Linked DNA regions of Homo sapiens. The protein of the gene in region 1 purifies or fractionates together with the protein of each later gene. This does not show direct contact. Each region holds a gene or a part of one and is shown in the gene's direction. Other genes may lie near its edges.

The links. The genes of interacting proteins can lie anywhere in the genome.
Region 2: the proteins of POMK (region 1) and PKDCC purify together in Homo sapiens (affinity purification with mass spectrometry; 4 studies listed by BioGRID and IntAct, with this or other methods). This does not show direct contact.
Region 3: the proteins of POMK (region 1) and CYB5D2 purify together in Homo sapiens (affinity purification with mass spectrometry; 4 studies listed by BioGRID and IntAct, with this or other methods). This does not show direct contact.
Region 4: the proteins of POMK (region 1) and LRP5 purify together in Homo sapiens (affinity purification with mass spectrometry; 4 studies listed by BioGRID and IntAct, with this or other methods). This does not show direct contact.

The regions. Positions count from the first base shown.
Region 1 is NC_000008.11:43,100,015-43,103,514, forward strand, and holds part of POMK (protein O-mannose kinase), read left to right. Parts: intron 1-2,490; 5' UTR 2,491-2,586; intron 2,587-3,500. UniProt on the Homo sapiens protein: Protein O-mannose kinase that specifically mediates phosphorylation at the 6-position of an O-mannose of the trisaccharide (N-acetylgalactosamine (GalNAc)-beta-1,3-N-acetylglucosamine (GlcNAc)-beta-1,4-mannose) to generate phosphorylated O-mannosyl trisaccharide (N-acetylgalactosamine-beta-1,3-N-acetylglucosamine-beta-1,4-(phosphate-6-)mannose).
Region 2 is NC_000002.12:42,046,836-42,050,820, forward strand, and holds the start of PKDCC (extracellular tyrosine-protein kinase PKDCC precursor), read left to right. Parts: upstream 1-1,185; 5' UTR 1,186-1,364; coding exon 1,365-2,003; intron 2,004-3,985. UniProt on the Homo sapiens protein: Secreted tyrosine-protein kinase that mediates phosphorylation of extracellular proteins and endogenous proteins in the secretory pathway, which is essential for patterning at organogenesis stages.
Region 3 is NC_000017.11:4,155,697-4,158,197, forward strand, and holds the end of CYB5D2 (neuferricin isoform 1 precursor), read left to right. Parts: intron 1-250; exon of another isoform or gene 251-497; intron 498-1,169; coding exon 1,170-1,386; 3' UTR 1,387-2,001; downstream 2,002-2,501. UniProt on the Homo sapiens protein: Heme-binding protein which promotes neuronal but not astrocyte differentiation.
Region 4 is NC_000011.10:68,420,591-68,424,090, forward strand, and holds part of LRP5 (low-density lipoprotein receptor-related protein 5 isoform 1 precursor), read left to right. Parts: intron 1-2,898; coding exon 2,899-3,107; intron 3,108-3,500. UniProt on the Homo sapiens protein: Acts as a coreceptor with members of the frizzled family of seven-transmembrane spanning receptors to transduce signal by Wnt proteins.

The DNA.
Region 1 (3,500 bases):
GGACTTGCATATCTTCATCAGAGGGACAGAGAGTCATCTGAGAGGGCACAGGGCAGGAGTCCTTCGGGGCCTCTCTGACCTGGCCCGGGGCAGGGAGCTGGGGATGGAAGTGCCATGAGTGCAAATAGGGAGCAGGGGGTCAGAGGAACAGAGGATATGGGAATGGGTGGTGGAGCCGGGAGAGACTGGAGCTTTGCCAATGGGGGCCTGGGCTGAGCAGGGCTCAGAGCATGTGGTGATGAGCCTTATGGCAGGTGAGGCTCAAGGCCCAGTGTGTGCTTAGGGAAGTGGGCAGCAGAGCGGGTGAGGGACCCGTGGGTGTATCACAGGGGTAGGGTGTTGAGGAAGTTCCAAAGCAAGCTAATAGGGGTTATGGCTGGAGAGAGGCCCAGTGTGTGTGCTAATGGGGGATAGTGTGGTAGAGGCACCAGGGTGTGTGCTAATAGGCCTCTGAGGCCTCGTGTGTGGTGATGGGGGTGTGTATGGTGTTAGTGCTGTGTGTGTGTCTGTGGGGGCCTGCAGGGTAGGAGAGAATGGGGTGCTTATGGAGGGGAGGTGGTTGAAGGACTCAAGTGCTGGGTGTGCGCTTGTGGGGGTTGTGCCGTGGTGGGTGTGTGCATGCGCTAATAAAGGTCTGGGTAGTTGGAGCCCAGTGCATGCTAATGGAACAGAGCTGGAGGGACCTCATGGAGGGATCTGATGGAGGGAGGACGGTGGGAGACCTGAGCCTGTGCTAGCGGGGATGAGGATTGTGGATCTCTGTGAGGTAGGGGGTGGTGGTGGTGCGGGAAGGGTCTTGGTACCGTCAGAGGCCCGGTGCGCTAAGGGTCAAGTTGGTGTGAGGTGCACGTGTGTCCCTGAGCACGAGGACACTCTAGGAAGGGGCAGCCGGATGGTTTAAGGCGTTCTAGAGGCTGCTACTGTGGGTTTAGAGCCATAGAGGCACTGAAGTGTGTGCCATTGCTGGGAGAGTCAGCAGTGTGAGGTCTGGAGTACGCTCAAGAGCGCCAGAACAGTATGAGCTTGTGTGCTTGCATCTGTGGGGTACTGGAATGTGTTGAGGTTCCAGGGAATACTGATGCAGGGGATGAGTAGAGCCGTGGAGGGGATAAAAATAAATTTAAAAGGCCAGGTGCAGTGGCTCATGCCTGTAATCCCAGCAATTTGGGAGGCTGACGCAGGAGGATTGCTTGAGGCCAGGAGTTCAAGGCCAGCCTGAGCAACATCGTGAGACCCAGTCTCTACAAAAAAAAATACAAAAATTAGCTGGATGTGGTGATGCGCACCTGTAGTCCCAGCTACTAAGGAGGCAGAGGTGACAGGATTGCTTGAGTTTGAGGCTGCATTGAGCTATGATTGCACCACTGCACTCCAGCCCGAGTGACAGAGTCAGACCCTATGTCAAAAAAAAAAAAAAAAAAAAGGAAGAAAATCATAGAATTTTGGAGATGAGTAAAGTTTAGGCAAATTTAAATGAAGTAGTGTTTTGATGGGCTCAAAGCCATGTAGAACTGAGTGTAAAGGGGCCAAGATCTAGTCTGGACTGCAAAGTGGTCCTCTTTCCTTGGAGACTACCAGGTTAACATAGATGTGCAGGATTATCTCCAGAAACTCCTTATCTGAAGGTCTGCCCTGTTTGGGAACTGAGGTTGCTTCTGTGTGTCAGAGTGACTTTGATCCTCCAGGAAAGCATGGGATGTTTTATCCCAACTGATAAGACTTCAAACTGCAAAATTTCTGGTAGTCTGTGATTGTAGAGAACAGAATTTCTAGGTAGTAAAAAAGGAGTCTTCATCCAAAGGGGGTTTTTGACACTTTATGGCTGCAGTGTGTTCTAAGGAGAAATGCCGTTTCCTGTTAACTTTGTGGTTTCATTGACGTCTTGTCCCAGCTCTGTATATGGGAGTGGATTTTGTTTTCTCAAGGAGGAGGTAGGAACAAGCTTCCTGTCCTGGATTTTTCATGGCTGGCTCCTCTCAGGCCTCTAGTCACAGTGTGAAGGTCACCTCCTTAGAGAGGTCTCCTGGGATGCTTCCTCCAGGGAGTTCCTACACAGTTACTCTCTATCTTTGAACCCCCATCACAGGATGATGATAGACCTATTTGTTTACTTGTTTATTGTCTGTCTTCCCCACTAGACTTTTCCCCTAAGCTCCAGCAGGATAGGAACCATGCTGGTGTAATTCACTGTGTGTGAATGTCTCCAGCACCCACTGCAGGGCTGGGCACATAGAAGCTGCTCAGGACATGTTGCGGGAATGAGCAGCTGGAAGTCAGTGATGGAGAAGAAGAGAGCAGACTGGGACAGAGAGACTCTGATGGGCTTCCCCACGGCCCTGCTCTGTCCTGGGGCTTGAGAACCTGAGGAAACCTGGACTTGAGGCAGGAGGAGGGCCCTGGGAAAGTTGGACCGTTTGGACTATGGCGATTTGTCTGGGTACATAGCTGCAGTTTCTGTTTACACACTTCCTGTTTGGTACTTTGTGGCAGGGTGTTTCCCGACCAGTCCCTGGGCGCCAACTAGAGTATGGACTGACCAGGTACCTGGATGGAGACCTGAGCTGGAGAAGGAGATGCGCTTGGGAGGTAACCCTGCATGTCACAGCTGTCTCTGACCCAGTTCTGTCCCAGTGCCCCAGCATTCCAGTGCTGTTTAGCTGGCTCCCACTGGCATGGCCACATCCACTGTTAAAGTCTCCATATACTTCCATTCTGCTCCATTCTGCTTCTGTAAATCACCTCTGCCATCCACGGTCCTACTTCAGGCTTCTCCGCAGCCAGGCCCCTCCACCATGGCCTTGCACGGCTCCAGCGGTAGAGCCCACACATTATCAGTGGTTACTTATCGCTGGTGTGACATCTGAGTGGTCATCTCTCCAATCTCATCGCTGTTATTCTAGCTCATGTACTTGTCAGCTCCTGTCCGTGGTCATAACCAGGGCTTCTTAATAACTGGTCTCCCAGCCTCAGTCTCTTTCACCCCAAATCTACCTTTCATAACTGCTGAAGAGTAGCTTTTATTTCTTAAAACTGTTGAGGGGATTCTGAGTACCTCCCAGGGAACAGGACAGCTGCTTAGCTGAGTTCGACAGAGGCCCTCAGCTTCCCAGCCTCCACCTGCTACCCTAAGCAGCCTCCTTCTGCTGTCCTTTGTCCACCCTCTGTCCCTGTCCCACCAGTTGACTAATACATTTTGCTTTCATTTTACTGAATATTCATGAGCATCTATTTAATGCATGCTACTGTGAGTCGGACAGAGTCAGACACAAACACCTCCCACCTAACCTAATCTAGAGGAACCCGCATTTTAGTTTGTAATAAAAAGTAATGATTATGGAAACAGCTAACATTGGGCATTTGGGATAAGCCTGGTGTTCGATACCTGCTTTAATCCCCACGGTAACGCTGCAGCTTACAGGACCCTTGAGTAGAAGAGGCATCAGAACACATTTTTGGAAATGAAAGGAAGTGAAAGCTGACTGTCATGACTTCTTGTTTCA
Region 2 (3,985 bases), on another chromosome or scaffold:
GTGGGCAGTTTCAGAGTGGCGGGGAAGAGGAGAGCTGCGAGGGGGAGGGGCAGCGGCTTATCTCTCCCAGGAGGGGGGAGCTCACTCCAAACAGCTAGTGCACTGGCGTGTGAAAGCCCCTCAATTAGCACTAATGATGCAATCAGGGAGGGAGGAGGAGGGACCGAAGTTCTGGTGGCGTCAGCACCAACTTACACACAAGGTACACATTCCCTTCATCGGACACAATGGCCCCTTCAGACACGCCGAGGCACACACTCCACAGACAGCCGTCCGTGGGCACAAACGCACTCTTTGCCCAAGCTACTAGCATGCACATGGTTTCTTATACGCGGCTGACCCCGTCAGACCCCAGGCATCTTGAGGGGTAGGGAGCGACCCCCAGCTGCATTTGGGGCTTTAGAGGCAAGGAAAATCAGAAACACTTTGGTAAAAGGAGTTGAACAGGGCATCCTCGGCGAGCTCACGAGCATTCCTCTATGCCTAGAGCTCCTGTCCCACGCGCGCTCGCAGGTGCTGGCCCGGCTGTGCCCGCTTCCCCCTCACCATCGCCCCAATCCGGAATCCGGGGCTGAGCGAGGAGCCGCCACCCCCGGCCCCACCCGCGAGAGACGGGGTCCACGCGCCTTCCCTGCGCCCAAACCGCCCCGAGGCCCCCAGTCCCAGGAGGGAGCGCTGAGATCACTCGGATCTCCGCACCCCGGACTTAGCTGCTCGTCCCCTCCGGAGCCCGCTACCCGCCGGCCTCGCCCCTTTATCTTTCCCCCACTCCGCCCGGCCGGCTCCGTTATCCACCTCCCAATCCCGTTATCCGGCCGCCCCGGCCCCGTTATCCGCCCTCGCGTTGGGCGCGGAGCCCCCGCGCGCCTCCTGGCCGCCGCCGCCCCCTCCCCCGCTCCCAGACGGAGCTCGGGGGACCGCGGGCTGGGCGGGACCGCGGGCTGGGCAGGACCGGAGCCGCCTCCGCGCCGCTTCCCAGGCCCGGACGGCCGCGGGAGGAGGTCCCGCTGTCAGTCAGCGGGGAAGGCCGGGCCGGGCGGCCGGAGGGGGCGGCGCCGAGGACGGGCTCGGGCCGGGAGCTGGGAGGTGGAGGCGGAGGGGCGGGGGAGGGGGCGGGGGAGGGGGCGGGGGCGGGGGCGGGGGGCGGCTCTGGGCCTTATAAGCGGCGGGGGCAGGGCGGCAGGGAGGCAAGTGTCAGGCCGATGTGTCGCCCGCGAGGGGCCGGGGTCGGGGCCGCCGGGGCCATGCGCGCGGGCTGGGCAGGGGGCCGGCGGGGCGCAGAGCGGAGCCGCCTCGGAGCCTGAGCCGCCCGGGGCCGGGGCCGGGGAGCCGCGCGGGGCCGGCCGGCCGGGGGGAGGGGAGCGATGCGGCGCCGGCGGGCGGCAGTGGCCGCGGGTTTCTGCGCCTCCTTCCTGCTGGGCTCCGTCCTCAACGTGCTCTTCGCTCCGGGCTCGGAGCCTCCGAGGCCAGGCCAGTCCCCTGAGCCTTCGCCGGCCCCGGGTCCGGGCCGTCGCGGGGGCCGCGGGGAGCTGGCCCGGCAGATCCGGGCGCGCTACGAGGAGGTGCAGCGCTATTCCCGCGGGGGCCCCGGGCCCGGGGCGGGCCGGCCGGAGCGGCGGCGCCTGATGGACCTGGCTCCGGGCGGGCCCGGCCTGCCGCGCCCCCGGCCCCCTTGGGCCCGGCCCCTGTCCGACGGCGCCCCAGGCTGGCCCCCGGCTCCCGGCCCAGGCTCCCCCGGCCCGGGCCCGCGCCTGGGCTGCGCCGCGCTTCGCAACGTGTCCGGCGCGCAGTACATGGGCTCAGGCTACACCAAGGCCGTGTACCGGGTCCGCCTGCCCGGCGGTGCCGCGGTGGCGCTCAAGGCGGTGGACTTTAGCGGCCACGATCTGGGCAGCTGCGTGCGCGAGTTCGGGGTACGGAGGGGCTGCTATCGGCTGGCGGCCCACAAGCTGCTTAAGGAGATGGTGCTGCTGGAGCGGCTGCGGCACCCCAACGTGCTGCAGGTACGAGGGTGGGGACGCGGGGGTAACGGTGTTGGCTGGGAGTGCCCAAGACCTTGTCAACCTGGCTGGAAGAGAACCCCTTGATCTGGAGTGCCAGTGACTGCACCCAGGCTAAGCTAGACGCAGAAACCGGACCATGGCCCTTCCCACTGCACCACCCTGCTTCTCACTCCTGGGTGGGCGTCCCTTTACCGGAGAACTCCTGGGTTTCTCGGCTTCCACACATCTCTTAAAGACAGGCCAGGACAGAGGCTCCCAAAACTCAGGGGGTGGGGCAGTCCATTAGGATTTAGGACTCTACTCCGGGCTGGAGTTAGGAGGTTGAACACCAGGGATATTACCCCAAGCCAAAATGACCCTAAGCCAAGACACTTGAGTCAGAATTCCAACTGTGTGATAAAGTCCCCCTTCTTGATGGAACTTCTCCCAACTTCCAGTGATTTGTCTGGTTTTGAAAATGAGACGGGACAGCAGTGGGGCTGGGAAGAGCTGGAAAGAGACCATGTGTCAGGCTTGATTCCTATAGAGTCTCCCCACCCACCCACCTCCAGCGCCACCCAGAAGACACTGGAAGGGGGCTGGGGAGCAGGCTAGAAAAAGGGAACACAGTCCTTCCCAGAAGTGAACTAAGGGTTCCCCAGGCCTTAAAGTGGGTCCTTGAGCCCCTGGAGAAGCCTGAAGGTCTCAGCTCAGTGGACAGACTGGCGGCCTGAGGATCTAAATGTCACACTGTCTGAGTGTATATAGATAGCCAAGAGGCTGGAAGGTTGAGAAGGCCAAATGCTCAGGTTCCTACTCAACGGGACTCTGCCTCGCCTGTTCACTGGAGACACAGGCGAGAGCTGAAACCCCCACCTTGTCCCCTCCAAGCTAGACTTTGAGTGGGCCTCTCACAGTCCCAGCACCGCCCTAACACTCCACGTCCTCTCTCTCAGGTCTCCCCCCATCCTAAGATTAGACAGACTATTCCCTTTGCACATGTCTGAGCAAACAGAGGGGAATCCCTGACCGCTGTTGGCCCGGTGAACATGGGTGTGTGCAGCCTCCCCAACGGATGAAATCTTGCACACACCTTCCACCTACCAGCCCACTCAAACTAACCTTTCTGCACCCAGCAGAAATGACTGGAAACCCAGGAGTCCCTCTCTCCTTTCCTTAGGAGTGAGATGGCACCCCAGCCCTGGAGGGAGATGGGTGGGCGTCGTAGAGCAGGAGAGACTGGCCCAAAAGTTGTTTATACTCCTGTTGGCTCCCAGTCTCCCCCTCCCCCATCGTATTCCCCAACCCTGGTCAGACACTTGTGACCGGGCCCTGGGCCCCAAACTGGTCTCAGGAGCTCGGGCAGAACCAACACTTGCGTGTAGTGAAGCCTGGCTGCACAGCTCACACCGTGTCTGCAGCTTCAGGGAGTGAGCCCCTGGTTACGTGGCCATTCTAACTGGGAGGATCTTGTACTCTTTCCTTCCCAGGGACTTTTGGGAACTTTTTGGAAACTCTAGGGTGTCAGCCAGATCCTGAGGGAGTGGAGAGGTCTTGAGTGACTTAGCAGGACATAAAGTCTTAGTTACTTGACTCAAGACCCCTCTCCCTTCAGACGGGTTTGATGTTTGATGTGCTTTCCTATCTTTTAAGAAACTTGTCCCTCACTCTTCCCGCCAGCTCAAACTTCCTGACAAGCATTCAGCTAACGCCCCACATATATATCACGTGACGGTCCTCCTCTGAAATGTCAGGCCCCCAGCCCAATTCTGAAGGCACCAAAGAAAAAATTACAACAGAATAGTTTTCACCCTTCCCTCACCAAACCAAGACCAGGGTTGTCTGGGGTTAGCTGTGTGACTCTTTATTGTAGAGTCCCAGACGAGAGTTAGTGGCCCCAGGGCACAAGGGTTGCTAAGGGAGAGAGGGTCACAGGTCCTTTCTACCCAGGAAAAGTGAAAAGTGGGGGGCCCTTTAGTGTGAGTTTAGGGACTGCTTTGATG
Region 3 (2,501 bases), on another chromosome or scaffold:
TGGTCTCTGAGACTCCAGGAGGAGGAGACTCCAGGAGGCCTGCGTGCGTTCAGATGCTTGACTTTGCTTCCTTGGGCCCTGCCTCCTTTTCCCTCCCCACAGCCTTCCCCTGTGTCTCCTGAACCTCTTCTTGCTTTCATGACTGAGTAGTTCAGGCTCTGCCTTCCCCACAAAACCCTTCCAGGGCCACCCTAGTGAACTGCGGGGCCCTATCCCTGTGCCTCAGCTCAGTTTGTTGTCTTCTGTTCACCTGTGTGTGTCCCATTAGACTGAGAGGAACAAGTGCCGAAGGCAGGGACAAGGTGTGGAGTACAGATCCCCAATGATGGGATGGAGGCTGGGTAGAAGAGGGAGGCGTTTGGGTGACAGCCTTGTTCTTGGTAAGCTAGAAGTAGGATGTTTTCTCGCTGGGGGCAGTTTCTCTGACAGCAGGCACCGGAAGCTGTCTGAGGCGTCAGTTCCAAGAACCTCAGTTTCTTTCTTGCAAGGCCTCTGAGTCCATCAGAGACTGAGCCCAGTGCCCTGAGGTGGGCAAGGCCCCTGCCCAAGATAGGAGGGTGCTCAGGTTGTTGGGCCACAGCTGAATCCTCCGTGTCTGAAGCCTAGTGCCATCAAGGACTGGACCTGTGGGGCACAGGACAGCTTGCAGCTACACTCTATGCCAAGGGCTTCCCAGAGAAGGCCGACCCAGGTGGCCAAGGGCCAGGGCCCAATTGCCCACCCCCAGCCAAGTGCCCCAGAGAAGAAGGTGAAGACCCTGACCTGCGCTGGGTTGTAGTGGGGAAGGAAGAGGACAGTCGCACCCAGACACTGCTTCTGAGAAGCTCACAGGCCAGCAGGGGAAGCCCTTTCACAGCTGTTGCCACCAGTGCAGGAACGTGGTGCTGCCTCCTAAGAAGGGGCAGGGCAGGGGCTGGGGAGCACAGTGAAAGGAACCATGGACTGTGCCCTTGGCCTGGGGAAGGTGGTGGTGGCCCTGCAGGGGAAGCTGGAGGATGTTAGGAGAGAGCATGAAGGCTCAGGGGCTGAGCGCTGTAGCCTGCTGCCTTGGGAAACACTCTGGTAGGCTTCTACTTTTCAGAAGGCCTGGCTCTCTGCTTCCTGCTCTCCCCTTCCCAGAGACTCATGAGTTCTCACATTTAAGAAGTCCTCTTTCCGTCTATCCTTAGTGGAGGTGTGAGCAGAGACTGGATTGGCGTCCCCAGGAAGCTGTATAAGCCAGGTGCTAAGGAGCCCCGCTGCGTGTGTGTGAGAACCACCGGCCCCCCTAGTGGCCAGATGCCGGACAACCCTCCACACAGAAATCGTGGGGACCTGGACCACCCAAACTTGGCAGAGTACACAGGCTGCCCACCGCTAGCCATCACATGCTCCTTTCCACTCTAAGCCGTAGCCTCTTCTGTTAATAACACACAGAGAGCTCTGCCAAGCACCTGAGTAGGCCCTTGACACTTGTGTGCCCTGGGATGCCTCCTGGCGCGAATCAGGAGGGTCTGGAAGGACTCTGGCTATATTCTGCAAATGTGGCTCATGCCCCTTACCGTGGCTCGGCGTTGTGGTGCCTGAGGGACAGCCGGCCACCTGCCCAGTACTGGTCAGCTTTTCAACACTATTCCCTTTGACCTACTGGCCATCTTCCTCACAGCCCTCAGATATCAACGGGCACAAATAAGACCAACTCAATTTCCACTTGAATTTACAACCAAAAGCCTGCTGAGTTGATTACAGCTGGGCCAATACAGTACGAGGCAATAACAAATTAGTGTGGGTTGATTCTGGAATTGGAAAAGCTTTTGCTTGTATGGATACAGCAAATCCAGATGTCTCTGAACAAAGCAACAATTTAAAGCAACGACATTTTCTGTCCTTTAAGCACTTAAAATCAGGTGTGGTGTGTTTTCAAAGGCAGAAGTCTGCATTTTGAGCAAAAGGTGGCTTCCCAGCTCTAACAAGGTAACTGGTTAGCATGACATTAAAGCTTGGGCAAGGCTTCAAACTTAAGGTGGCTGGGCTTGCTGCTTGTCCAGTGGTTTGTATGTCCAGCGTCATCTGGCAATGTCATACCTGTTACCTCTTGACTACTTGTGAAGGTAGATGGGGGCAAGGAGTGTTCCTACTTCAGACAGAGAAGTGGGACCAGCACTACCACAGACAGCGCCACGGCCTCTGTGCATCGCCTCATCAGAGCTTCCACCCAGCTCCCTTTGCCGCTCAGTCTCACCCTCAACATCCACCAGCTTCCTCCCTCTCTGTCACTGTCTCCTTTTTCTCCATCATTCATTTCACTAAATCGCTTTCCAGATTCACAGACTAGAAAATGGAGGCTGCCTCCCCTTCACTGGCAGACCCGTACTCACTGCCCCTGTCCCCTTCACTGGCAGACCCGTGCTCACTGCCCCTGTCCCCTCACTGGCAGACCCGTGCTCACTGCCCCTGTCCCCTCACTGGCAGACCCGGGCTTATTGCCCCTATGGCCACAGCTGTTCCTTACACTTGGGCTC
Region 4 (3,500 bases), on another chromosome or scaffold:
TTACTCAGGAGGCTGAGGCAGGAGAATCGCTTGTACCCGGGAGGCAGAGGTTGCAGTGAACCAAGATTGTGCCTCTGCAGTCCAGCCTGGGTAACAGAGTGAGACTTCCTGTCTCAAAAAAAAAAAAAATCATCGGATGGATGGACGGACCACTTCTTGTTATTTATCCATCCACGGGTGCTAGGTTTCTTCCACCTTTGGTTGTCGTGAATAAGGCCACTATGAACATTTCCTTCCGTGGTGAAGGTTTTGTACTAGTGAGGAAAAGGCGTGTTTGTGGTGTTGCATAGGATTCTGGTAAGAAAGTTTGCACTAACCATAAGTATTTGTACTACATTAAAATGAAAGCTCAGGGGCCGGGCGCGGTGGCTCACGCCTGTAATCCCAGCACTTTGGGAGGCCAGGGCGGGCGGATCATGAGGTCAGGAGATCAAGACCATCCTGGCCAACATGGTGAAACCCCGTCTCTACTAAAAATACCAAAAAACTAGCCAGGTGTGGTGGCGGGCACCTGTAGTCCCAGCTACTTGGGAGGCTGAGGCAGGAGAATGGCGTGAACCCGGGAGGCGGAGCTTGCGGTGAGCCGAGATCGCTTCACTGCACTCGAGCCTGGGCAACAGAGCAAGACTCCGTCTCACGCAAAACTCTGTCTCACGCAAGACTCCGTCTCAAAAAAAAAAAGAGTTCAGGGTTTATGAAACTGGCCAGCCGCGTAAAGTTTGCTGTGTTGTTTTTGTGCCCGGGAGGAGTGTGGCCAGGGTGTCACGTCACACAGTACACGTTTCTCAGATGGTGGTTCTCCAGACTGCTGTCCCAAAGTCTGTTTTTGCATCTGGTTCCCACAGACCCACCCTCCACGGTGAGCCTGATTTTGGCCAGGGTAGCTGGAATCTTGCTTGTCTTTCAGCCCGGCAGCTGTACCAGTCCAGGGTCCACAGCTAGTGGCTTTTAGGAAGGAATTTGTTCAGTTGGCTTTGACACATGGCCCCCTAGGGTCCACAGCTCTGTAGTGATGTGGATGTTGTTATCTACAAAGACACATGATCCTTCGTGTCCAGATGAAAGTGATGATGTCTTTGCAGCTGCCCAGCAAGGCTGTGTGTGTGTGTGTGTGTGTGTGTGTGTGTGTGTGTGGTGTGTGTGTGGTGTGTGTGTGTGTATGGGGGAGGGAGGCACCCTTTCCATCTGGGGGTGTGTGTGTGTGGGGTGTGTGTGTGTGTGTGCGCGTGTGTGTGGTGTGTGGTGTGTGTGTGTGTATGGGGGAGGCACCCTTTCCATCTGGGTCCAAGAGACTGGGCCTGGGGAAGACGCTTCTTTTTATCTACTTAGAGACTTTGTTTTATTTGTATTTTTTTGAGACAGGGTCTCACTCTGTCACCCAGGCTGGGGTATGGTGATATGAGCATAGCTCACTGCAGCCTCGGCCTCCCAGGCTGAAGCGATCCTCCCACCTCAGCCTTCTGAATAGCTGGGACTGTAGGCGTGCGTCACCATACTGAGCTATTGTTTTTTTTGTTTGGTTGGTTTAATTTTTTTTGATACAGATGGAGTCTTGCTATGTTGCCCAGACTAGTCTCAAACTCCTGAACTCAAGTGATTCTCCCACCTCAGTTTCCCGACATTCTGGGATCACAGGTGTGAGCCACTGCTGTCTCCCTGTTTTATTAACTGCTGAAAGACCTAGATAAAGAAAGTCTGAAAAGACTTACTATCAGAGCACCATCCTAAGATGATTCCCTCTGACTCAATGGAGAGGGAGGGGAGCTTTTCCTTCAGGCCTGGGTGGCAGGAGCCCAGGTGCTCCAGGCCCCATTTGCCCCAGGCCAAATCACTCGGGAACTTGGATGCAGCTGTCTTTCAGGGTAACCCAAAGGAACCAGATCCCCGCAGGCAGTAGGCTTCTGGGCTGTCCTCTCCTCCTACGTCAGCTCAGTAAGAGCCCTTCGAAGGGATGCTGTGTCGGAGGCCCCAAAAGCCCAGGCTCATCCCTGAGATGCACAGGGTGGGCTGGGCTTAGGCAGCGCTCGAGCATCTCCTGGACGGTGACCCCAGAGAGTGTGGAGACGGAGAGTCCTTGAGAGTCACTGAGAGACGTGGCTGCCCTGCCTTCCCAAGAGGGGCTCTGAGTCATTCCCCACACTCACCTGCCCCTACCCACCCTCACCTGGCCCCCAGCCTCACCTACCCCCACATCTGTACCGATCCCTTTACCCGCACCTTCCCTACCCACCCTCACCTCCCCTGTACCTTCACCTCCCCCACTCACCCGCCCCTGCACCCTCACCTGTCCCCCACCTTCACCTAACCCCCACCCTCACCTGCCCTCCCCTCACCTGGCCTCCTTCCGTTGGGGAAGGGGTTGTAAGGGGCGGCCCCCAAACTGTCTGTCCTGGTGCCCTGCAGAGAAAACAGTACGTGAGGGCCGCAGTCCAAAAGCTTGAGTCCTGGAAGGTGGAGGAGACAGGGATGTGTTGGGAAGGGCCCCATGGTCTTGGATCCCTTCTCGACTGTCAATGGGGCCTTCATGGGAGCGCCAGTCTAGTGATGCACAGCTGGGTGCCCGGCGGGTGGCTGAGGAGGCCTAAAGTCCGAGGCGGCAAGAGCTCTTCCAGAGGCTGTTGTCCTAATCGCTCTGGCATACTCAGGCGGGCACGTAGTTAGGAGCTGATTGGAGAGGAGAGACCCCCACACCAATACTGGGATTTGACTTTCAGGCTAAACTTGAGAAGTGTGGCCTCTGCTGTCCTGCCAGAGCTCTCCAGCCAGTGCCCAGGGCTCTCCAGCCAGTGCCCGGGGGTCTCCACCAGTGCCCGGGGGTCTCCGCCAGTGCCAGGGGTCTCCGCCAGTGCCCAGGGGTCTCCGCCAGTGCTCAGGAGTCTTGGTTTCTTTGTCTTACAGCCCTTTGTTTTGACCTCTCTGAGCCAAGGCCAAAACCCAGACAGGCAGCCCCACGACCTCAGCATCGACATCTACAGCCGGACACTGTTCTGGACGTGCGAGGCCACCAATACCATCAACGTCCACAGGCTGAGCGGGGAAGCCATGGGGGTGGTGCTGCGTGGGGACCGCGACAAGCCCAGGGCCATCGTCGTCAACGCGGAGCGAGGGTAGGAGGCCAACGGGTGGGTGGGGGTGCTGCCCGTCCAGGCGTGCCCGCCGTGTCTTCTGCCGAATGCCAGCCTCTCACAGGCTGGGGAGACTTTCCACCCTGGGGATCCAATGGGTGGCTTTCCAGGGTCCCAAAAGCAAACACAGGCTCTTTCACAGCCCCTCCAGGAAAGCAGAAAGCCCCAAGGGCTGGAAGGGAAGGGGGAGCTCTGCTGAGAGGTTACAAGGCAGCGCTGGCCGACGGGAGTTGCAGTTGATAGGTTTTGTATCATCCTTGTTAAACTTGAACCCTGTGCAGAAATCCCTTCCACGGCATGGGGGCTGCCTGTTGACTCGCTCCTGTTCCACCACAGGGAGCTCCTGGGCTTCTTCCTCCCAGAGGCCCCCGACGC